Regions from separate parts of the Homo sapiens genome. Here region 2 is linked to region 1. Evidence: fine-mapped expression QTL. A gene starts in region 1. The other region holds a variant in brackets. All regions are shown on one strand. Distances are from middle to middle.

Region 1 (15,994 bases):
CGAAATGACATCTAGTGAAAAAGCAAGTAACAGAACAATGTGCATAGCATACTAATTAAAAACAAGAGGAGCCAGGCGCAGTGGTTTACGCCTGTAATCCCAGCACTTTGAAAGGCTGAGGCCAGAGGATCTCTTGAGCCCAGGAGTTCAAGACCAGCCTGGGCAGCACAGTGAAACTTCATCTCTACCAAAAACTTTTTAAAATTGGCCAGGTATGGTGGCTCGCACCTGTAGTCTCAGCTAGTTGGAAGGATGAAGTGAGAGGATCAATTGCTTGAAGTTAGGAGGTCAAGGCTGCTGTGAGCCATGTTTGTGCCTCTGCACTCCAGCCAGGCAACAGAGCGAAACTCTGTCTCAAAAACAAAAAAAGAGAGAGGAAAAAAATGTATTTGTATATGCATGGAATATTCTTGGAAGGATACACAAAGAAATTGGGATTGAGAACAAGGGTTTCTTCAAAGGAGGGAATTGGGCATCTGCTGTAAAAGAAAGGGATTTCACTGTATACCTCTTTAAGACTTTTGGGTTTTGAGCCAAATGGATGCATTAATTATTCAAAATATAAGTTAATTAAAGTAAGATTAATAAGATGAATTAAAATAAAATAAGATGAAATAAAATGGTAATCGGATATGGTAATAGCTTATGTCCTTACTTGGAGAAAATGGACAAGTCTCTGTCAGACATCAAAAGAATTAAAAATATTTTAATCTGTAAAATCCTGAAGTCCTATTTTTAAAAATAAATATCTAACACACTGATATTAAGTAAATATCTTCTCATTTTAGTTAAAGAAGATGCATGTATCAGTTTGTCCCGTCACTGGCAATGACTTTGACCATGTGGTTAAGGTGGTGTCAGCCAGTTTACTCTACAGTAAAGTTACTGTTTTATCCTTTGTAAACAATTTGTGTGGACACTTTAATGCTAAATAAATATCCTGTCCCACATCAAACTTTCGTCACTATTGTTAGCATCCATTGATGATTGTCTAGAGCCATCATTCTTTCCATATTTATGGGTTGACATTTGACTTGTTTGTCTGCCTTGTTTGTTTACTTATTTCCCTTCTGCCTTGTTTGTTTACTTGTTTCTTTGAATCGGTATAGGCTCATGAACTTTTATTCAAAGAGTTTAAATTCATAACTATTATTATTAATTTTAATGCATGCATTGACTCAGATTTGCCTAGTGGGAAATCCTTTTTTTTTTTTTTTTTAATACTATGGACCACAAGACCCTGCTATTTAATCTGGGCTGACTGTGTCTCTGACTGAAATGCTCCTCTCTCTCATACTTACTTATTAATTATAGTTTTCTGTTCCTCAAACATGCAGGCTCTGCACTGCCTCGGGGCCTTTACACTAGCAGTCCCCCTCCCTGGAGTTGTCTTCTTCCCACCTTCCCATGGCAGGCTCCTTCCATGCGTTCAGATGTCTCCTTCTCAGAGAATTTTTCTGGGACCATCTTGTCTAATATAAGACTAATCCCTTGGCTGGGCGCATGGCTCACGCCTGTAATCCCAACACTTTGGGAGGCCGAGGTAGGCGGATCATAAGGTCAGGAGTTCGAGACCAGCCTGGCCAACATGGTGAAATGCCATCTCGACTAAAAATACAAAAATTAGCCTGGCATGGTGGCGGGTGCCTGTAATCCCAGCTACTCGGGAGGCTGAAGCAGGAGAATCACTTGAAACCAGAAGGCAGAGGTTGCAGTGAGCCAAGATCACGCCACTGCACTCCAGCCTGGACAACAAGAGCAAAACTCTGTCTCAATTAAAAAAAAAAAAAGACTAATTTATCTCTCACTCTTACTCCCAATCTCATTCTCAGTCTCTCTTTTGTATTTCATTTTATTTACCTTTTGAGACAGAGTCTTGCTCTGTCTGGAGTGCAGTGGCACAATCATAGCTCACTGCAACCTCAAACTGTTGGGTTCAAGGGATCCCCCTGCCTCAGCCTCCCGAGTAGCTGGAATCACAACTACTCAAGAGATCCTCCTACTGGGATTACAGGTATGAACCACTGCACCTGGCCTCTCCTGTATTTTAGATATCTCCCTCTCTGTTGGCTCCTCCCCAGGACTAGTTCAACATATTCTAGCCTCCTCCACATGATGTAAAACAAACAAGCACAAAAAAACTAAAATTATTTTGCTACTCTTTAGTTTTGCCTCTCCTTTTCCTCGTGTCCCTAGCTCTCATCTTCTCACAGCCAAACTTCTAGAAAACACTGTCTACTGCTGCAGTTTGAATGTCTGTGTCTTCTCCAAAATTCATGTTGAAACTTAATCCCCAATTTGATAGTATTAAGGGGTGGGGCCTTTAGGAGGTGATTAAGTCATGAGGGCTCTAATTGGGAATTATGACTTTATTTGTTTATTTGAGACAGGCTTGCTCTATTGCCCGGGCTGGAGTGCAGTGACACAATCACTGAAGCCTTAACCTCTTGGCCTCAAGGGAGCCTCCCACCTCAGCCTCCCAAGTAGCTGGGGATATAGGTGTGCACCGCCATGCCCAGCTATTTTAAAAATTTTTTTGTAGAGACAAGGTCTTGCCAAGTGGTCCAGGCTGGTTTCAAACTCCTGGGCTCAAGCAATCCTCCCATGATAGCCTCCCAAAGTGCTGGGATTATAGTCATGAACCACAGCACCTGGCCAGATTATGACTTCATAAAAGCGATACAGGGAATTAGGCCCTTTTTTTTTTCCCTCTGCTCTTCCATCATGTGAGGACAAGCAAGAAGGCCTTTACCAGACACTGAATGCCAGCACCTTGACCTGGGACTTTCCAGGTTCCAGAACTAAGACATAAATTTCTGGGCTGAGCTCGGTGGCTCATGCCTGTAATCCCAGCAGTTTGGGAGGCCAAGGCAGGCAGATCACTTAAGGCCAAGAGTTTGAGACCAGCCTGGCCAACATGGTGAAACCCTCTCTCTACTAAAAATACAAAAATAGCCAGGCATAATGGTACAAGCCTGCAATCCCAGCTACTCAGGAGGCTGAAACACGAGAACCACTTGAACCTGAGAGATGGAGGTTGCAGTGAGCCAAGATCCTGCCATTGCACTCCAGCCTGGGCGACAAAGGGAGACCCTGTCTCAAAAAAAAGCAAACAAACAAAAAAATTCTGTTCTTTATAAATTGCCTGGTTTCAGGTATTTTGTTACAGCAGCACAAACAGACTAAGATATCTGTACTTTCTCAAGCCTCACTTCCCTACCTTCCATTTATTTATACCTCCACCCACCACACAATGAGTTTATGCTCTGCCCCAAAACTGAAAGTGACTTACTCTGACCAGATACAGAAAAAAACAGGCCTGTGGCTAGCCCATATATTGCTTTCATATGGACTGGAAAAACATTTCCCTTTTTCAAGACGCTTGCTTCCATCTATCAGAAAATAGTCATCTTAGGTATACCAATCTGCAATGTCTGCAATGTGCATGGTGCCTGCTGGTGTTGTGCAGTGTGCTACCTGCACAACCATATGAGGACCCTACCAACATCCTCCAAGCCCGAAAGATACATTACACGGCCGGGCTCAGTGGCTCACGCTTGTAATCCCAGCACTTTGGGAGGCCGAGGCGGGCAGATCACGAGGTCAGGAGCCAGACCATAGTGAAACCCCGTCTACTGAAAATACAAAAAATTAGCTGGACGTGGTGGCGGGTGCCTGTAGTCCCAGCTACTTGGGAGGCTGAGGTAGGAGAATGGCGTGAACCCGGGAGGCGGAGCTTGCAGTGAGCAGAGATCGCGCCAATGCACTCCAGCCTGGGTGACAGAGCGAGACTCCGTCTCAAAAAAAAAAAAGAAAGAAAGAAAGATGCATTATACTTTAGTCCTATCCATTTTTTTTTTTTTATGACAGTCTTGCTGTGTTGCCCAGGCTGGTCTCAAACTCCTGGGATCAAGCGATCTGCCCATCTCAGCCTCCCCAAGTGCTGGGGTTACAAGCATAGAATAGCCACTGCACCCAGCCCTAGTTTTTATTTGACCACTTTCAACTCCCCTGTGACCATCCTTCCTTCTTGAAATGTTGCCTTCCTTTGGCAACTGTGATACCACACAATGTTCTCATTGTTTCTTTCTCATCCTCTCATGCTTCTCTTCTTTAATATTAAGTCCATTCCAGAGTCTATCCTGGTTTGTCTTCCCATCTCTCTGAGTGATCCCAATCACTTTCATTCAACATTTATTGAGTGCCCACTCTGTGCTAGGCATTGTTCTAGGCACTGACCACTTGCAACTTCTAAGTACATGCTGGTAAATGACAAATGTGTCTATCTCAGGCTCACATATCCAACTGCCTCCCTGAAATCTGAACTTCGATATCAAACGACCTTCCCCCAAACTTAACTTGTCTAGAACTGAGTTCATCATCCTTCTCTCTAGATCGGTTTCTCTTCCTGGGTTCCCCATTTTAGCAAATGATATTCATTCAGTTGCCCAAGACTGATAGCTGGAGTCATCCTAGACCCTTTTCTCTCTCCCACCTGAGAAAGTAGTAAGTCTCTTTTTTCTGCTTCCTAGATATGTCTGACTTTCAATCACCTGTCTCCATCACTGTTACCACCACACTGGTCTCCATCTCACTCTAAGCCATTATGATGGCTCTTATAGAATACAGCAGCAGGCTCCTTCCTGGCCTCAGCCTTCGGGACTTTTCCCTGTGAATTCATCCAGAGCATGCTTCCTATGACACAAGACTGATGATGTTAAGCTCCTGGTGAAACCCTATAATGGTTTTTTTGGCCTTCAGGATTTCAGTTCTAATTCTTCAATATGCTTTATAAGGCCAACCATAATCAGGTACCTCCTCTACCTCTCTGCTTTTATTTATTTCCATTCCCCCTTTCCCCTCATATTCTGTCACTCATTCATTCTTCCCTCCATCCATACTAAACTCCTCTTAGCTTCTGAATATCCCATTCTCTCTCTAGACTCTGAACTTTGGCCTGTGCTGTTCCCTCTGCATGGAGCAGCTCATTAGCTGCTCTCCCACCCCTTTACTTTGCCGATGCTACCTTCTCTTCAGGTTTCAGCAGAGATCTTACTTTATCTAGGAAGCCTTCCCTAAACTCCCAAATCTGGGACAAGGGTCTTTTTCTGAGCTGCCATAGTAAGCTGGTACCATTTATCACACTAGGGTGTTTCCCTGTTCATTGGTCTACATCTTCCTTTAAATATAAGCATCTAAGAGGTCAGGAACCTTGCCTCTCTTCTTTGTTTGTTTTTGAGACAGACTCTCACTCTGTTGTCCAGGCTGGAGTGCAATGGCACGATCTCAGCTGACTGCAACCTCCACCTCCTGGGGTCAAGTGATTCTCCTGCCTCAGCCTCCTGAATAGGTGGGACTACAGGCATGCACCACCACACCTGGCTAATTTTTTTTTTTTTTTTTTTTTAGAGATGGGGTCTTGCCCAGGCTGGTCTCGAACTCCTGAGCTCAAGTGATCCGCCCACCTCAGCCTCCCAAAGTACTGGGATTACAGGTGTGAGCCACCTCATCCAGCTTTTGTTTAATATTTAATTCTTGGGACCCAGCACAGTGACCAGCACATAGTAGGTGCTCAGTAAGTACATGTAGAATAAATGAACAGTTGATAAGTGCAGGATATGAATCCAAAAATTCTGGTCCTGACTCACCACTGGACCCTTGGAAAGTGTTTATTAGTGTTGCTGTACCTTAGTGTCCTCACTTGTAATACGAATATATAATATAGAGCATGGCAATGGCAATTTTAAAACATAATCCCCAAATTCTTTGACACTTCTTTTAACGAGAGGTAGAGCCTATGTCCCTTCCTTTAGAATTTGGGCTCTGTAATTTCTTGACCAAAAGATCACAACAAAAGTGATGTCATGGCCATTTCTGGACTCAAGTCTTAAGAAATCGGCAATTTCCATTTTGTTTTTCTTGGGATGCTTCCTTGCGGAACGCAGGCACTATGCCATGGAGAAGCAGCTCCAGAGAGGCCCACGTAGAGGACTCCAGCCTCCAGCCCTCAGCTTCTGCCAAGCTCCCAGGCAGCAACACCCACAATTTGGCAGCCATTTTGGCCTCCATCTTGCTCCATCCAAGCAAATCATCTTGGAAGTGGACCTTCCAGCCCCATTTGAACATCCACCCCCATGTAAGATTCCAGAGATAAAGAAATGTTGTTTAAGATCTACATTTTGGTATGGTTTGTTATGCAACAAGCAATAATCAGGACAGATTTTGATACCTGGAAGTGGAGTATTGATAATACCATAACACGCAGCACTGGCTTTGGGACTGGGCAGCAGATACAAGCCAGAAACGCCTCTGGGAGCATGTTAGTAATGGTGTAGGAGGCTGGGAGTGAGGACTTAAAAGTGAGGGAAATGTTATCTGGAGAGAGGAAAGGGGACTCCAGTTACATAGAAAAGTTTGGCAACACTGTTGCCGTGGCCTTCTGTAATGTGGAAAATAAAAAGTGTACTTCATGAACTCAGTGACCTTTCTAAGAAGATTTCTGGGCTGAGTTTCCAAAGTGCTGCCTGATTTTTACTTGGCTAGCTAGTGGCACCTCTTTCTACCACAATGCATGAACCAGTCATGTTGTTAAAGACATTGTCTCCATGCATGAAATTATAGACACCCTATGCCAAGCTTGTCCAACCCACAGCCTATGGACCGCATGCGGCCCAACACAAATTCGTAAACTTTCTTAAAGCATTATGAGATTCTTTTTGCAAGTTTTTGTTTGTTTGTTTTGTTTTTTAGTTTATCAGCTATCATTAGTGTTTTATGTGTGGCCCAAGACAGTTCTTCCAGTGTGGCCCAGGGAAGCCAAAAGATTGGACACCCCTGCCCTAAGCCTTCTCCAGGTCCCCGAAGAGTTGGCACTGTCACAATGACAATGGCTAACCTTTTGTCTTCCAGGCTACTCAACCCTTTTGGAGAAGGTGGCAACATCGTTGGCACTGTCATCTTAGACAAAAGAGAGTGGGACTGGCAGAAGATCAGCTATCTCAAAATTGGAAAGCAGGTCACTAGTTCCTATCCACTGTGATTCGTCTGGCATTCTTCAGTCCTCTGTACTGTGGCTTCTCCTTTCCCCCATGATTTTCATTAAACATCTACACAAAAATTATTTAATATGTGCAAAATGTATAAATAACTAATCCTGCCCTTCACCATATCCATGATCCTGCATTTTGTGTGTTTCCTTTCTTTGTTTTCCTCTATGGTTTCACTACATGTGAATCCCTAGTGATAGATTTATTTTTGCTTGTTTCTTAACTAACAGAAATGGGATCACACTGTATGTATTCTCCCGAAACTTGCTTTATTCTCTCAACATTAAGTTCATAAATTTCACCTATTTGTTTTTTGTCTTAATCTTTGTAACCAGTCTGTAAAACCAAATGACTATCCTCTCTGTTCTGGCACAATGTGCTGTGCATATCAGGTGACCAGTAAACACTGTAGGATGATGCTGGGCAGGATATGTCCACAGTGTTGGGAGAAAAGCTGAGTGTTGGGAGAGAACCTGAGGCAGGGCTTGGAACATGTCAGGGGTCCAGGGTCTAAAACCCCTCGTGGCCTTTGGAATGGGTCTAGACTTGCGGGCTCCTTGCTTTTAGCACTCCCATTATCTCAAGTAGCCATATGTTTCAAAGAAAATGCTAAACTCTCACAGCTATAGCTCATTCGCTTGATACGCCACTTCCTTCCAACCCCCACATCCTCACCACCTGTTTCTTTGTTTTATCACCAATAAATAGCGTGGGCTCCCAGAGCTCAGGGCCTTTGCAGCCTCCATACTAGCGTTGGCCCCCTGGTCCCACTTTCTCTCTTGTCTTTTCTCATTCCTTTGACTCTGCTGGACTTCGTAGCACCCACAGCTTAGTGTTGGGTCTGATCACCCCAACACACAGAATAGGTGGGTAGCTCACGTTCATGCAAATGTAGTTGTAATATTCAGGAATAAGAGTTTCCAGAGAAGGTACAAAACTTTTACGTGACCCCCAAAAAATTTAAAAAAAAGAAAAAAAAACAAAAAACTTTTAGGTGGCTAGGCGTGGTGGCTCTTGCCTATAATCCCAGCACTTTGAGAGGCCAAGGCAGGAAGATTGCCTGAGACCTGGAGTTCAAGATCAGCCTGAGCAACGTAGCAAGACCCTGTTTCTACCAAAAAAAAACCTTTTTTAAAATAAACTAAAAACTTTTAGGCAACTGCTAAAAATGAATCATTTGGTGTAAAGGGACCTTTACAAAATCATTTAAGAGCAGGGACCTCTCTTAAAGGCCTGTGGATCTCCCAAGCATGGAAATAACAGAAAATCTTGAGTTCCTTCAAGGGAAATTCCAGGCACCTTCCCAGCCTTTAGAAGTAAATGAGCAAATTAATAAGCAAGAAGGTAATAGTAGCTTAAAACAATAGCCAAGGCCGGGCACAGTGGCTCACGCCTGTAATCCCAGCACTCTGGGAGGCTGAGGCAGGCAGATCACTTGAGCTCAGGAGTTCGAGACCAGCCTGGGCAACATGGCAAAATCCCGTCTCTACAAAAAATACAAAAATTAGCATTGTGACATGTACCTGTAGTCCCAACTACTTGAGAGGCTGAGGGAGAGGATCACTTGAGCTGGGAGGCAGAGGTTGCAGTGAGCTGAGATTGTGCCACTGCACTCCAGCCTGGATGACAGAGCAAGACTCTACCTCAAAATAAAAAAAAAAAATCAAAAATAAAAAGCCAAGGAAGTTAGAGTCAGAAGATGGTCCCTATAGAAACTAATGATGCATCTTAACTATGTCCCTGAGTTGTTTTTTAAAAACCCAGACCCTCACGAAATGTATCCACTGGCATATAGACCTCAGATAAGGAGGAACTGAGGATTGAACTCTGACCACTGTTCTTCAACGTCTTTCAGAGGGGCCTGAAAGTCATGTCTGCAAATCAGAACTAACATTCTTTTTTTTTCTTTTATTTTTTCTTTTTGGAGACAGTGTATCACTCTGTTGCCCAGGCTGGAGTGCAGTGGCACAATCATGGCTCACTGCAACCTCCACCTTCCAGGCCCAAGCAATCCTCCCACCTCAGTCTCCCAAGTAGCTAGAACCACAGGTCTGTGCCAGCATGGTCAGCTAATTTTTAAATTATTTTTGTAGAGATGGGGTCTCCCTATACTGCCCAGGCTGAGAACTAACGTTCTTTTCTACTGACCCCAAATTTTTAGACAAAGCTTTGTCTAAAGTTCCTTAACCAATTGCAAAAAAGAAAATCTCTGATTCACCTATGACCTGTGGGTCCCCCTCCCCCACTTTGAGATGTCCTGCTTTTTTAGGTCAAACCAATGTGTAGCTCCATGTATTGATTTATGACTTTGCCTGTAACCTCTGCCCCACGCACCTTTATTTTACTTTTTATTTTTGAGACAGGGTCTTGCTCTTTCATTCAGGCTGGAGTGCAGTGGCACAATTACAGTTCACTGCAACCTCGACCTCCTAGGCTCAAGTAATCCCCTCATCTCAGCCTATTCCGACTAGCTGGGACACCCAGCTAATTTTAATTTTTTGTAGAGACACGGTATGTGTTATCCAGCCTGGTCTTGAACTCCTGAGCTCAAGCAATCTTCCCACCCCGGCCTCCCAAAGTGTTGAGATTACAGGTGTGAGCCACCGCGCCTGGCCCCCAGCTGCCTTTAAAAACCCTTACTTGCCAGCCATCAAGGAGGAGCTACCTGATTCTCCTTGCTTGGTACCCTACAGATAAACACCCTTCTTTCTCCCTCTGCAAACCTTGGTGTGGGTATTTGGCCTTACTGTGTCAGGTGAAGGGACCCTAGTTCAGTTAGATAACATAAATATTTGCAGTGTATGTGTACTACCCAAGGACATGACTTCATTATTCAATTTGACAAATGCGTTCTGTTACACAAATACAGAAAGGATTAATAAAGCTTTACTAGTCCATCTTTCCCATTATCCCTGCATGTATCCTTGCATTAGTGCAAATAATTGAGAACAAACCATTGGTGAGGGGATGGAAAGACTGCTCTGACTCACCAGCTCCCTTTAAGTATTTCCTTAAGTAAATATCATAAGTAACACAAATAAATATTTCATACAATGTAGAGAAAAAAGCAAAAATAACAGTTCTCTGAGCATCAAACTAATAGGCTTAGTATTACTATCATTTTTTTGAAACGGAGTGTCGCTCTTGTCGCCCAGGCAAGATCTCGGCTCACTGCAACCTCCGCCTCCCAGGTTCAAGAGATTCTCCTGTCTCAGCCTCCTGAGTAGCTGGGATTACAGGCATCTGCCACCATGCCTGGCTAATTTTTTGTATTTTCAGTAGAGACGGGGTTTTGCCAAGTTGGGCAGACTAGTCTCCATCTCCTGACCTCAGGTGAACTGCCTGCCTCGACCTCCTGAAGTGCTGGGGTTATAGGCGTGAGCCACGGCACCCGGCCTAGGCTTAGTTTTTTGTAGGTACTAGAGTATTTGTTTCTTTAGCCAGAATCCACTGATATTTTAGTCTTCTGGTTCTCAATCTTGGCTTGCTTTTGCAACTACCTCTTGAACTTTAAAAAATTCTGCTCCAGCCTGGGCAACAGAAGGAGACTGTCTCAAAAAATATATGTCAATAAGTAAATATCCTGATGCCTGGATCCCACCATGGGACATTCTGATGTAACTGGCCTGCAATGGTGTCTGGGCATGGGGATTTTTAAAAGCCCCAGTGACTAATATGCAGCAGAGTTTGAGAACCACTGGTTTAAAGGACTTTGTCCTACTCTGACAGCGTCTAGCACAGTGCCTGGCAGAGACTGATGCTCAGAATGAACAAACTAAGATTCTATTTGTCAAGGAGGAGAGCATTGTGTTACTCACAAATGCAAACAAACCACAAGCAAGGGATAAGTCAGGCCCTGGGCAAAGACAATGGTAAAGCAATTCCTGCCAAGTAAGCGTGTGAGGGTGACACCCACTGAATGCAAGCTGTTGTTACCTTTTTCCCTTTATTTTTATGTATTTATTTTTTGTTGAGACAGGGTCTCACTGTCCTTCAGTCTGGAGTGCAGTGGCCCTATCCTGGCTCACTGAAGCCTCGACCTCCTGGGCACATGCAATTCTCCCGCCTCAGCCTCCTGAGTAGCTAGGACTATAGGTGCGTGCCACCATGCTTGGCTAATTTTTTAAATTTTTGTACAGAGGGGTGGGGGGTCCTAATTATGTTGCTCAGGCTGGTCTCGAACTCCTGGGCTCAAGTGATCTTCCTGACTCGGCCTCCAAAAGTGCTGGGATTACAGGTGTGAGCCACTGCACCAGGTCAAGTTTCTATCTTGACTCTAACTAGAAAAGGTGTCATCCTTGAAATGCAGGTACTGTTCAGCCAAATTCCAAAGTCCTCTGAAGATCCAAGTTCTCTAAGAAGTTCAGAGGTGCCAGGCTGTGTCTTGTTTGTGCAAATGAAACAGAGGATGACAAGGTCGGGTGGGCATTTCGAGCTCTGCCCCAAGTCTGGTCGGCTTGAGAGTCAACCTAGGAGCCTCTCTCGGCTCCAAATGGCAATGTGGCAGCCCTTCCCGAGTAGGGAAAAAGGAGCGTGTAGGGGGCACCACGGCAAGCTGGTTGGGTCTGCTCCACCCATGAGGATGGAGTGCAGCCTCCACCGGGAACCAGGGGCGCGAGTCGCTGCTCAGTGGCCTGGGCCTGCATGTGGCGCGGCGGGAGCTGCTGCCTAGGGCCGCGCAGCGACGGGGGGTGAGGACTACATGTCCCGACGTGCCTCGGGCAGGGCGGGGCGGTGCCGGAGCCGGGCCTGGAGGCCGGCCGGGGCCAGGCGTGCGCAGTGGTTCTTGGGAGTGGCGAAGCGGGTCCTGCCCCGCTGTCAGCTGCGGCCCCCGGCGCCGGGCGGGGGTGGCCGCGACCATTGGCGGAGAGGCGAAAGGGGCGGGGCCGCCGCCAGCCGCTGCGGGCAAGGCTGAACAGGCGGAGGTGGGCAGCCGGCCAGGGAAGCACGGTCCAGGCGGCTACATTCGGCCCGGCCATGGCAGCGGCGCCCCTGAAAGTGTGCATCGTGGGCTCGGGGAACTGGTGAGCGGCGGCGGGCTGGAGGCCGGGGCTCCGCTTCCAGGAAGCGCCTCTCCCGGGCGGTGAGGGCTGCGCGCCCCATGCTGCGGCGTGGGCACCGGGCACTGCGCGCAGGGAGGCGGGGTGGGCGACCTCGTTGCTGGGCTGGGCACCGTGCGCCCGAGGAGGCCGCACCGGGGCACTCGCTCGGGAGGCGCTGGGCTCGCGTGCGTGCGGGGGACAGCGCGGAGAGAGGGCACCCCGAGCACGCGGGCACCTGTCTGCGCCCCCGTTACTGAGCGCACAGAAGCCACCTGCTTGCCACGCCTGGGTGTTTTGCACAATATCCTAAGGGCGTATTCCGTTCTCCACGGCGGATCTCCTGGGTCAAGGACTTGGTGGAGGCTCGAGCATTCTTACTGCAGTTTCGGTGTTGAGGAAACCGAGGCGGAGAGGGCTAAAGGGCTCTTGCTGCCCAGGTCACGGGCGGGGCATGCTCTGCCCTTCAAGGTGCCCGTCTCGCCCCCGCTTCTGATAGGTCCACTATCTTAGGCGCGTCGTATCAGGAAGAAAATCCAAGTTTCAACAGGCCGCTCTCCCTGAGGCGTTGAGAATTCTCCCTTGCCGAGATGTTTGCGAAGCTTTGCGTCTCTTTGGGGCCTTATTTGACTTTAACATTTTATAGAGCACATTAGAAATGTCAGTTCTTCTAGTACCCTTAATCAAACGTACACTGTGGGATTCTCTGGTGTGTTTGGGTGAATGTAGAGGTGGGGGTGTGAAGGGGGAAGGAAGCAAAGTGTAGCATCTGGTGTTTCCAAGCCTTTTTTCATTGCTGTACACTCTGCCACATTGGAGGGACTGGTGTACAATAGTTAAGAGTGATGATGTCCTTTCAGTGCTTCTGTTTACCGGTTTTTCTGTGGCGTGACAGGCATCAGAAGTGCTGCAGCAGCTGGTCCTAGGTAGTTGGTCTTAGTTTTACTCTTTCAAGACTTGGCCCAGAAAGTACTTATTGAAGGAAACCTTACCTGGTTCTTCACTTTTCCATCCCAGCAAGGCCAGTGGCCTCTCTCTGTGTCCCTATTGCTGGCCTGCATCACTGCATTATAAGGAGTTATTTGATTATCTGTCTCCCAACTTTTGAGAATGGCATCTACCCTAGTGCCTGGCATATGCTAAGTCAATACTAAGACTCTGTTGCAGTGGTGCGATCTTGGCTCACTGCAACCTCCACCTCCTGGATTCAAGCGATTCTTGTGCCTCATCCACTTGAGTAGCTGGGATTACAGGTGTGAGCCACCGCTCCCTGCCTAAAAACTAATTTTTAAAACCATAATGATATTTGATTGAATAATACATTCACATTGTTTAACAACCAGGGCTGGGCGCAGTAGCTTATGCCTGTAATCCCAGCACTTTGGGAGGCTGAGGTGGGCCCAGGAGTTTGAGACTAGCCTGGGCAACACGGCAAAACCCCGCCTCTACAAAAAATAAAATATTAGTCGGGCATGGTGGCTCACGCTTGTAATCCCAGCACTTTGGGAGGCTGAGGCAGGGGGATCACGAGGTCAGGAGATTGAGACCACGGTGAAACCCCGTCTCTACTGAAAATACAAAAAATTAGCCAGGTGTGGTGGCAGGCGCCTGTAGTCCCGGCTACTTGGGATGCTAAGGCAGCAGAATCGCCTGAGCCTGGGAGGCAGAGGTTGCAGTGAGCCAAAATCAGATTGCACCATCGTACTCTAGTCTGTGTGAAGGGAGTGAAACCCTGTCTCAAAAGAACAAAACAAAACAAAAAATAAAAAACAAAAACCAAAGAGTACCAAAAACAGTGAAACATCACCCATCCACATTTATCCCCCCTGAGTACCTCCTGGAGGAAAACCAGTGTTATGAATTACTTCTGTCCTTTCTGGAGGAATTCCATGCAAGTGAATGCTTACATATAGTCCTTTCGCCCTCCACGCTGCAAATACTAGGGTATTGCATACTTTTCTGTGAGCTGCATTTTTCAACCAACAACAGAATGTTCTACACAATATTTAATAGAGTTGGTAGCTTGCTGCTGCAAAGCTTAATTTGGACTTTCAGCTTGGCTTTGCCAGTTGTTTTTTTTTATTACTATTTTTTTAGACGGAGTCTCCCTCTGTCGCCCAGGCTGGAGTGCAGTGGCGCGATCTCTGCTCACTGCAAGCTCCGCTTCCTGGGTTCATGCCATTCTCCTGCCTCAGCCTCCTGAGTAGCTGGGACTACAGGCATCCGCCACCATGCCTGGCTAATTTTTTGTATTCTTAGTAGAGACGGGGTTTCACCATGTTAGCCAGGATGGTCTCAATCTCCTGACCTCATGATCCGCCTGCCTCTTCCTCCCAAAGTGCTGGGATTACAGGCATGAACCACCGTACCCGGCCGGCTTTGCCAGTTTTAATGTCAAGCTCACTTGAGTGCAGTGTCAGCTCCCCTGTTGGCCATGCCACTTGAAAGGCACCCATTTAGCACATGTTTTTTTAACATTAGTTTTTTAGTCTGTACAATTCCACAGATGACAGCCCCTTTTCCTAATTTGCAAGATGCAGGACAAGTAGCACAGCTCTGCCATGCTGGAACTGGGCCTGGAGCAAGAGTAGTGAAGTGAGCCTCCTGCCCCCTCTGCTGGGATTTGGCTGCCTGCCCGTGGCTTCTTCATTCTGGTGTACTTGACTGTTTCCTTGGCCCACTCCAGCCCAGGGAAATGGAGTAGAACTTGGCCAGTGATACTGAAGCAGAGCAATTGAGAAATGTGCTGATGGTTTGGGCTGGCTGCCTGGCTTCATTAATTATGGGATTAGACGGGAACAATTCTTGGCTTCTGTGCCACTGCCTTGGGTACAGAGTTACTCCAGTCCTAGAGAGAGGATCACAACCTCCCCAGAGGGATTCAGGAACTCAGAAACTGAAAACAACATGGAGAAGCCCCAGAGGAGTGTTCAGCTCTAGTCAGTAGACATTTGAGTGTTGCCCGGTGAAGAGACTGTGGTCTGACCAGGGATGCAGACACAGCTGGACACAGTCCCGGTCCTTAAACAACTTACCTTCAGGTCTGAGATCAGTGAGGACATGGAAGATAAGACCGAAGGAATTGCCAAGTGGAATGGAGTAACTGCTCTGTTACACTTTAAATCGTGTTTCTTTTTTTGTTTGTTTGTTTTTGTTTTTCTTGAGACGGAGTCTCGCTCTGTCGCCCAGGCTAGAGTGCAGTGGCGCAATCTCAGCTCACCGCAAGCTTCGCCTCGCGGGTTCACGCCATTCTCCTGCCTCAGCCTCCCAGGTAGCTGGGACTACAGGCACCCGCCACCACGCCCAGCTAATTTTTTGTGTTTTTTAGTAGAGACGAGGTTTCACTGTGTTAGCTAGGATGGTCTCAATCTCCTGACGTCGTGATCTGCCTGCCTCGGCCTCCCAAAGTGCTGGGATTACAGGCGTAAGCCACTGCGCCCGGCCTAAATCGTGTTTCTTAAATTGTGGTCCCAAGACCACTTGTGTCAGAATTACCACTGAAACTAGACTTGCTTAATCATATCCCCTGAGAATGAGATTTTTTTTTCTGAAGGAACTTTAGCCTTTTGCCAATTTTAATACAGATCACCAAGAGATAGACCTACCCTTCCAGATCTGGTTCTTACCTCAGGAATGTCAAGTTGCTTAAGCAATGTTTATACTTGGAACTTTAGGGCAGCTTAGCCTGTTTGTGTAAATAAAGGTGTTTGTCACATTTGAGAACTCTCACATGGAGTGCCTCTCCCAAGTCAATTGTCATCAGTTGCAATACAGTTATCAGAATATTGAATCTAGCTGGCTTGCCAGGGAGCTTCAGCCAGGAAGGTCCTGGGCAGGAAAGTAGACGTGTTGTATAACATGCCCTTGTCCTGTCCTTTGGTGAAGCTCATTTTCTCTACATAGATCAGA
Region 2 (8,000 bases), 45 kb after region 1:
TGAAGTTAGGAGTTTGAGACCAGCCTTGTCAACATGACAAGCGAAACCTCATCTTTACTAAAAATACAAAAATTAGCCAGGTGTGGTGGTGCACGCCTATGGTCCCAGGTACTCGAGAGCCTGAGATGAGAGGATTGCTTCAGCGTGGGAGGTGGAGGCTGCAATGAGCAGTGATCGCACCATGGCACTCCAGCCTGGGTGACAGAGCAAGACCTTGTCTCTAAAAATCAAAAAGGAGACATGAGCACTATGTGCAGTGTGGGGTCCTGGATTAGGCAGGGAGGGTTGCTGTGGAAGACAATGCAGAGGTGATTGGTGAGGTTTGAATGTGGATTATATGTTAGATAATAATATTATGTAAACATTACATTTTCTGTATTTGATCATTGCAGTGTGGTTATCCAGACATCCTTTGTTGATGCATAGGGACTATTTTAAATTGCGGTAGGTTCAGGAATCGTGGCCCACTTGAATCTTCTGTGGAGGGAAAAGATAGGGCAGCTTCAGGCCTCAAAATCCTGTCATGGTGAACTACAGTGCCCTCTTGTGGTAAGGTCTCCTTTCGTTCTTGGGGCATACCACAGACTCTGAGGCTTTTAATCCAGTCATTCCACAAATATTTTTCAAACCCTCTTATGTATCAGGCATGGTGCCAAATGTCTAGAATACATAAGCTCCTTATGGAACTTGTAAGCACACAAACACATATGGAATCACAAACTAAAATAAGGGTTTTGAAGGAGTTTTATTACATAGGTTAATTGCCTCTAAAACTTGGTGTGACAGAGAAAGGGGATTTTCCTGTCTTTGGTTTACATTGAGTTTTGGGCAACCTTCCCACATGGCTGTCCGGCATTAGCTGTTCTGTACAGATGCCCTGAGTCCCTGCTTGCCATGTCACTGTTTATTACTGGGGTTTGTTGTTGTTGTTGTTGTTGTTTTTGAGATGGAGTCTCACGCTGTTGCCCAGGCTGGAGTGCAGTGGCGTGATCTCGGCTCACAGCAACCTCCGCCCCCTGGGCTCAAATGATTCTAATGCCTCAGCCTCCTGAGTAGCTGGGAACACACACACACACACACACACACACACACACCACCACGCCAGGCTAATTTTTGAATTTTTTGTAGAGATGGGATTTCGCCATGCTGACCAGGCTGGTCTCGAACTCCTGACCTCAAGTAATCCACTTACCTGAGCCTCCCAAAGTGCTGGGATTACAGGCATGAGCCACCGCGCTGGCTTATGACTGGTATTATATTAATAATAAAATTCGCGGGCCGGGTGCGGTGGCTCATGCCTTTAATCCCAGCACTTGGGAAGGCCAAGGCAGGTGGATTGCTGGAGGTCAGGAGTTCGAGACCAGCCTGGCCAACATGGCGAAACCCCATCTTTACTAAAAATACAAAACTTAGCCGAGTATGGTGGCGCATGCCTATAGTTGCAGCTACTCAGGAGGCTGAGGCGGGAGAATCGCTTGAGCTTGGGAGGTGGAGGTTGCAGTGAGCTGAGATAGTGCCACTGCACTCTAGCCTGGGCAACACAGCAACTCTGTCTCATAAATAAATAAATAAAGTTACTACCTATTATCCATGATTTAAGGTAATAAATTTTAAAAGGTACCTTTGAGAAAATATGAGATTGCTATAAATCAAGCCCACCTCTTGGATGGGCATTGCGTTATTTGCAGCCACAAAGGAACCCATAGACCCTACCTTGTATCTATGGCAAGCCAAGAGTGTGCCTTCCCCTGCCCATTCCTCAGTTTGTTCACCAGCAACCCAAGTTTCCAGCTGCAGATGGCTGGATTAAAGTGACTTGAGGGAGGGGCTGGTCTGCAATGTTCAGGAGCATGCTTCATGTTGGAGGCACTGAGCAGTGGGAGGAGACACGATGAGGCTGTAATATGATGTAGGGGCCAGGGGCTGGTTTACCCAACCCAGATGATGCAACAGTGTTGCACAGAGTCACCTAGACAGCCTGGTGGACTGTTTAAAAAGGAAGAGAACAGTTTGCACAAACTGACATAGTTCTAACATTTGGAAAAGGGGAACTCAGCTAAATGAAAGAACAGTAATGCTACAGAGTAGACTGTGTTTCTAAGTATTGGGTGTAGATATTGTGTTTTATTATGAAACTTTTCAGAAAAGTAGAGTAGTATCACGAACCTCACATGCCCGTCACCCATCTTTAGAAATGATTAACTCCTGGCCAGTCTCATTTCATCCACTCCCCACCCTCTCTCAACCCTCAGATGGCCTGGATTATTTTGACATTGTGTCACTTCTTGGTGTAGTTTTACTTGTTGACAATCATGCTTTTTTCTTTTTTTTTTTTTTTTTTTTTGAGACAGAGTCTCGCTCTGTTGCCCAGGATGGAGTGCAGTGGTGAGATCTCAGCTCACTACAGCCTCCACCTCCTGGGTTCAAGCGATGCTCCTGCCTCAACCTCCTGAGTAGCTGGGACCACAGGTACGTGCCACCACGCCCAGCTAATTTTTTGTATTTTTAGTAGAGATGGGGTTTCACCATGTTAGCCAGGATGGCTTCAATCTCTTGACCTCGTGATCTGCCCGCCTCAGCCTCCCAAAGTGCTGGGATTACAGGTGTGAGTCATCGTGTCTGGCCAAAAAAAACTTTAGATTCACATTCGGTCAGTTAAAAATGTATGTCAAATTGTAAATGATCACCTCGATTGGAAACGGGATATTTTTACTTTATTTCTGCTCCTATGTGTTTTCTAAATATCCTATCATGAACATGTTACTTTTATAGTAAGTAGAAACTTATTTTAAAGTGTATTAGGTGTGAAAATTAAGATTAGAGGCTGTTATTAATATCCTTGTTGTCTAACCTTTCAACAGGCAGCAAAGTAATGGAGAACGGCCTTCTCTTCAAAGAACTTCTGCAGACTCCAAATTTTCGAATTACCGTGGTTGATGATGCAGACACTGTTGAACTCTGTGGTGCGCTTAAGGTAAAGTCAGCCTCAGGGGAGGAGTTCATCAAGCAAGGCAAATGTTAGCATCATTGAGTCTAATCCTCAAGAATGGGCTCTGTGTTCTGTGCACCCACATCAGCGAAGAATAGTGAATTGAGAGTCTTGTTTATAACTTCCTGTTTTGCTGCAGCCTTTCCCGGGTGGTTCAGTTCCTCTCTTACTCGTGGCTTGCTTTAACTTGTAAATATGGGGGAATTGTGATGTTTTGGTCTTTGGGAAGTTGGCAGCATTGATATTTGGAAAGCATGGGAGTTCCTTGATGACAGGGTTTCACCCAGGAGCAAATGATTCTATTCATTCATGTTTTTCTCCCACACTTCATCCTGAGCAGGAAAAGGAACTTGTTTCCTCTGAATTATGCTACTCTACTAGTTTGGCTGGTTGTTCTTATTAAGGGAAAAAATAATCTGCTGCTGGTAGAGGTTTTTCTAAGAATAGTTTTGTCTTTGCCCTCAAGAGAGAGAAGATGTGATTAAAGAAATGCACTCCACTGGCCAGTGGCTTGCTGGATTTTTGTAAGTGGAACTGTACAGTATGCACTCTTTTGTGTCCGGCTTCTTTGATTGGAGGTGTATTTTTGTTTGTTTTAATGTAAATTTTAAGAGGTACTTCATACAGAAAAGTACAAAAATCATAAGTATGTAGTTTATGTTATCTTTTTTTCCCCTCTTTTGAGGTAAAGGGAGGTCTCCACACCTGGGCTCCTGACTTGTTGGCTGCTGTCTTTTAAAGCCTTAGGCACTGTCCCTCTCTCTGCCGTGACTTGGGGGAACAACCAACAGGGAACAGCAGCAGCTACCTGCTCATTCCCCCTCACTATCTAAGTTGCCTTTATTTCACTATCATCTACAAAAAAGAGTGGGGGGAATAGGGGAAATAAAAAGTTCTCAATGTGAATGCCCCTTTTGAGCCACTTCTGAGTCATCTCTTTTGCAGCAAAAAGCCACCCTTCAGAAATTT[G/C]AGCATCTAGGGAAGAGGTTAGGCAATCCACCAGTCACCTGTCTTTATTGGATGGGAGTTGCAAAGGTGGAAAGAATGCCTGTCTATGCTTTCTCATAAATTGTATATGTTTTTTTCTAGTCAGAAGTTAAAACCACTCTCTAGAATTAACATTGTGTATATATGTGTGGTCATGATATATAATGAGCATTTAAAAAAATTAAAGCCAATTAAAGGCCTGGGCTCCTAGGGAGCACACATGCATATTTCTAAGCGCCTGTGTGGGGCATTCTTTGCATTAGCATTACATTACATGCAGGCCCAGTTATACATGTAAGACGCTGACTTTGGCTGCTTTGTTTATTTTTGTTGGTTGAGATTTTTATGTGTTTTTAATAGTCCTTCATTAAACTAATTACCACTCAACAGCAGGGGGCATCGTGAATGCCTAATTGCTCAGTGCTGGCCTGAGCTGCTCCAAAGCTGTTTTCAAGTGACTGGATGTTTTTGGTGGTCATGGAGAAGCTGTGAAACCCTGCCCAGAGCAAAGAGTGCTGGGTGAGAAGAAGGAGTCTAGATTGAGGTGAGGGCTTTGGAAAAGCTTCTGCTAATGGGAACCCATGCTGGTCTTGTGTCTGAACTTAGAATGGCTTTCATTTTTGCTGGCAGGAAGACTGTAAGTGGATGTGCCAGCTACCTTGATGGAAAGGGATTCATGGGGGATGCAGGGAGGTGGGGGTTGAAGGCCCTTAATCATCCTCCCTGCAACTTCCCACACAATCTTTTAAAACGAGATCAGTTACCATCATTCCTGGGGGTTTGCATCAGAGTTAAAATTTTTGAAAACTGAGAAACAGGCACTTGTAGCAATTATTAACTCCAACCATTGTCTTGCACAGATAAGGAAATCGAGATCCAAAGAGCAAATGACTTTAGGGTAGCAAACACTGGCACACTCGGAGCGTGAACACGGGTTTTAAGACTCTCAGCCCAGTTTCTTTGGTTACTGTGTACCACTTGACTTTTCTGGTTAGTAATCAGGCAGCATGAATGAAACGAAGCCCTCTCTCATCAGAGCCTGCCAGAGCAAGGACACATGGCCGTATGTTGCTTTCATCACATAAATAACAGTGATGGGTTTTTCCCCCCGACTATAACACAGTCATATTCCTTGTTTTCACACAACAGAAAGGTGTAAAGAAGGAAGTAAAAATCAAATCACTGACAATCCTACATCCTGAAATAACCTCAGTTAATGTTTGTTGTATACCCTTCCAATGTTTTTAGTGTGTACCTATGTGTATGGGTCCTTTTTAAAACAAAAACTAGATATTAGTGTTCAAGTAGTTTGATTTTGTGTGTGTGTGTTTTGTTTGTTTTTGAGACAAGGTCTCGCTGTGCTGCCCAGACTGAGTGCAGTGGCACAATCATGGCTCATTGCAACCTCAGCCTCCCAAGCTCAAGCTGTCCTCCCACCTCTGCCTCCTGAGTAGCTGGGACTACAGGCACATGCTGCCATGCCCGACTAATTTTGTTTATTTTTTGTAGAGATGGGGCCTCGCTGTGTTGTTCAGGCTGGTCTTGAACTTGTGAACTCAAGCAGTCTTCCCACCTCAGACTCCCAAAGTGCTGGGATTACAGGCATGACCCACCACATCCAGCCATTGATGTGTTTTACTTTTTTACGTTAACAATCTTTAGTAATATTCTCCATACTAGCCAATTTACAAAATGTACATTATCTTTTTTGTACTCAAAAATGTGGAGCATTTGACTTACTAGGAAAAATGTGAAAACAACTCTCTACAAGGATAAAATAGAAAATTCAAAGGATTTATGCATAATCATTTTGTACCAGTGCCTCTTACTACCTTCGGAATGTCCTTCATGAACTCTTAGCTGTATTCATCTCTTAGTAAGGATATATCCTTTTTTAAAAATCAACTTTAAGTGTAATTCATGTAATTAGGCCAGGCATGGTGGCTCACACCTGTAATCCCAGCACTTGTGGAGGCCAAGGCGGGTGGATCACGTGAGTATGGGAGTCTTAGACCAGTCTGGCCAATAGGGCGAAACCGCATCTCTACTAAAAAATACAAAAATTAGCTGGGCGTGGTGGTGTGTGCCTGTAATCCCAGCTACTCGGGAGGCTGAGGCACGAGAATCACTTGAATCTGGGAGGCAGAGGCTGCAGTGAGCCAAGATCGTGCCACTGCACTCCAGCCTGGGCGACAGAGTGAGACTCCGTCTCAAAAAAAAAAAAAAATGTAATTCATGTAATCAAACTGCATCTATTTAGAGTTTATAATACCATGGGTTTTGAGAGTTGTGTGCATGCACTTGCGAAAACCACTACCAAAGTACACAACATTTCCATTATCCCCAAACAACTCCACATGTCCCTTTGAGGTTCCTCATCACCCCAGCCTCCAGTTGGGCAGTCAGCTGATCTGCTTTTATATGCCATCGTTTGCATTTTCTAGGATTTTTATAAGTGGAACTGTACAGTATGCACTCTTTTGTGTCTGGCTTCTTTGATTGGAGGTGTATTTTTTGTTTGTTTTAATATAAATTTTAAGAGGTACTTCATATAGAAAAGTACAAAAATCATAAGTATATTGTTTAATCTATGTTATCTTTTTTTTCCCCTCTGAGAGAGGTCTTGTGTTCCTTGGCTCAAGCTGTTTTCCTGCCTCAGCCTCCCAAGTAGCTGGGATTATAGGTATGCACCACAGCGCCTGATTTATGTTATTGTTTTCTGTGTTTTTAAATAGTCTAGTGGTCTTTTTTTTCTTAACAACTTTTTTTTTTTTTTGAGACAGAGTCTTGCCCAGGCTGGAGTGCAGTGGTGTGATCTCAGCTTACTGCAACCTCTGCCTTCCAGGTTCAAGGAATTCTCATGCCTCAGCCTCCCAAGTAGCTGGGATTACAGGTGCATTCCACCACACCCAGTTAATTTTTGTATTTTTAGTAGAGATAGGGTTTTGCCATGTTGGCCAGGCTGTAGCTGGCCAACAGATGTATTACATCTGTAATGTACGTTTTGTAATTGGCTACTATGGAGAATATTACTAAAGATGATTAATGTTAAAAAAGTGAAACTCATCAATGGCTGGACGTCGTGGGTCATCCTTGTAATCCCAGCACTTTGGGAGGCCGAGGTGGGAAGACTGCTTGAGTCCACGAGTTCAAGACCAGCCTGGACAACACAGTGAGACCCCCCGCATCTCTACAAAAAATAAACAAAATTAGTCAGACGTGGTGGCTTGTGCCTGTAGTCCCAGCTACTCGAACTCCTGGCCTCAAGTGATCCGCCTGCCTCAGCTTCCCAAAGTGCTGGGGTTACATGCGTGAGCCATCACACCCAGCCTATTTTTCACACCTATTATGCATGAATTCATAGAGAATAAGTCCCAGCAGCTCAGGCTCCTTCCCACTGGTTCCCACAAAGTGCGCTTCTCTGGGTGGAGCAGGCTGGTACTTCAGTCTAATCCAGGTACCTTTCTCTTTGGCTTCCTTCTTTTTCTGATCATTTTCCTTCATGTGTTTCAGGAAGCTATCTCAGCTCTTAGCTTAATATGCTCCATACACCCATTAATTCTTGGCAAGAATCTTGCCCTTAACTTGTTTACCACAATGCCAGCAGCATGCTGGGTAACATTGTAGACTCTTCCAGTTTAGCCATGGTGACACTTGTGGGGCATTCCTTTTTGAACAGTGACCATTCCCCTGATGTCTACAATATCATCTTTTTTTAAAAAAAGGTTTTTTAGCTTATGTATTTATTTTTTATTTTTTTTGAGACAGGGTCTCACTCTGTTGCCCAGGCTGGAGTGCAGTGGCACAATCTCAGCTCAGTGCAACCTCTGCCTCCTGGGCTCAAGTGATCCTCCCGCCTCAGCCTTCTGAGTAACTGGGACTATAGGTGCTTGCCACCATGCCTGCTAATTTTTGTATTTTTTGTGGAGACAGAGTTTCACCATGTTGCCCAGTCTGATCTCAAACTCCTGGACTCAAGTGATCCATCAGCCTTGGCCTCCCAACGTGCTAGGATTATAGACCT

Evidence for each region.
Region 2: its variant is fine-mapped to the expression of GPD1L in monocytes (TOPMed, PIP 0.97).

What each region holds. Positions count from the first base shown.
Region 1 is chr3:32,094,689-32,110,682 of GRCh38, forward strand. It overlaps GPD1L (glycerol-3-phosphate dehydrogenase 1 like), which reads left to right and starts at 11,932. Exons shown (of 8, transcript NM_015141.4): 1 at 11,932-12,070. The coding sequence starts at 12,024. RefSeq lists silencers at 3,596-3,695, 11,665-12,074, 12,195-12,334.
Region 2 is chr3:32,143,761-32,151,760 of GRCh38, forward strand. GPD1L (glycerol-3-phosphate dehydrogenase 1 like) reads left to right here. Exons shown (of 8, transcript NM_015141.4): 5 at 2,862-2,974. It also overlaps the pseudogene RPL21P137. Among named protein-coding and RNA genes, the nearest start is that of GPD1L, 41 kb to the left of the region's middle. RefSeq lists an enhancer at 4,023-4,636. The variant G/C (reference allele first, on the strand shown) is at 3,959.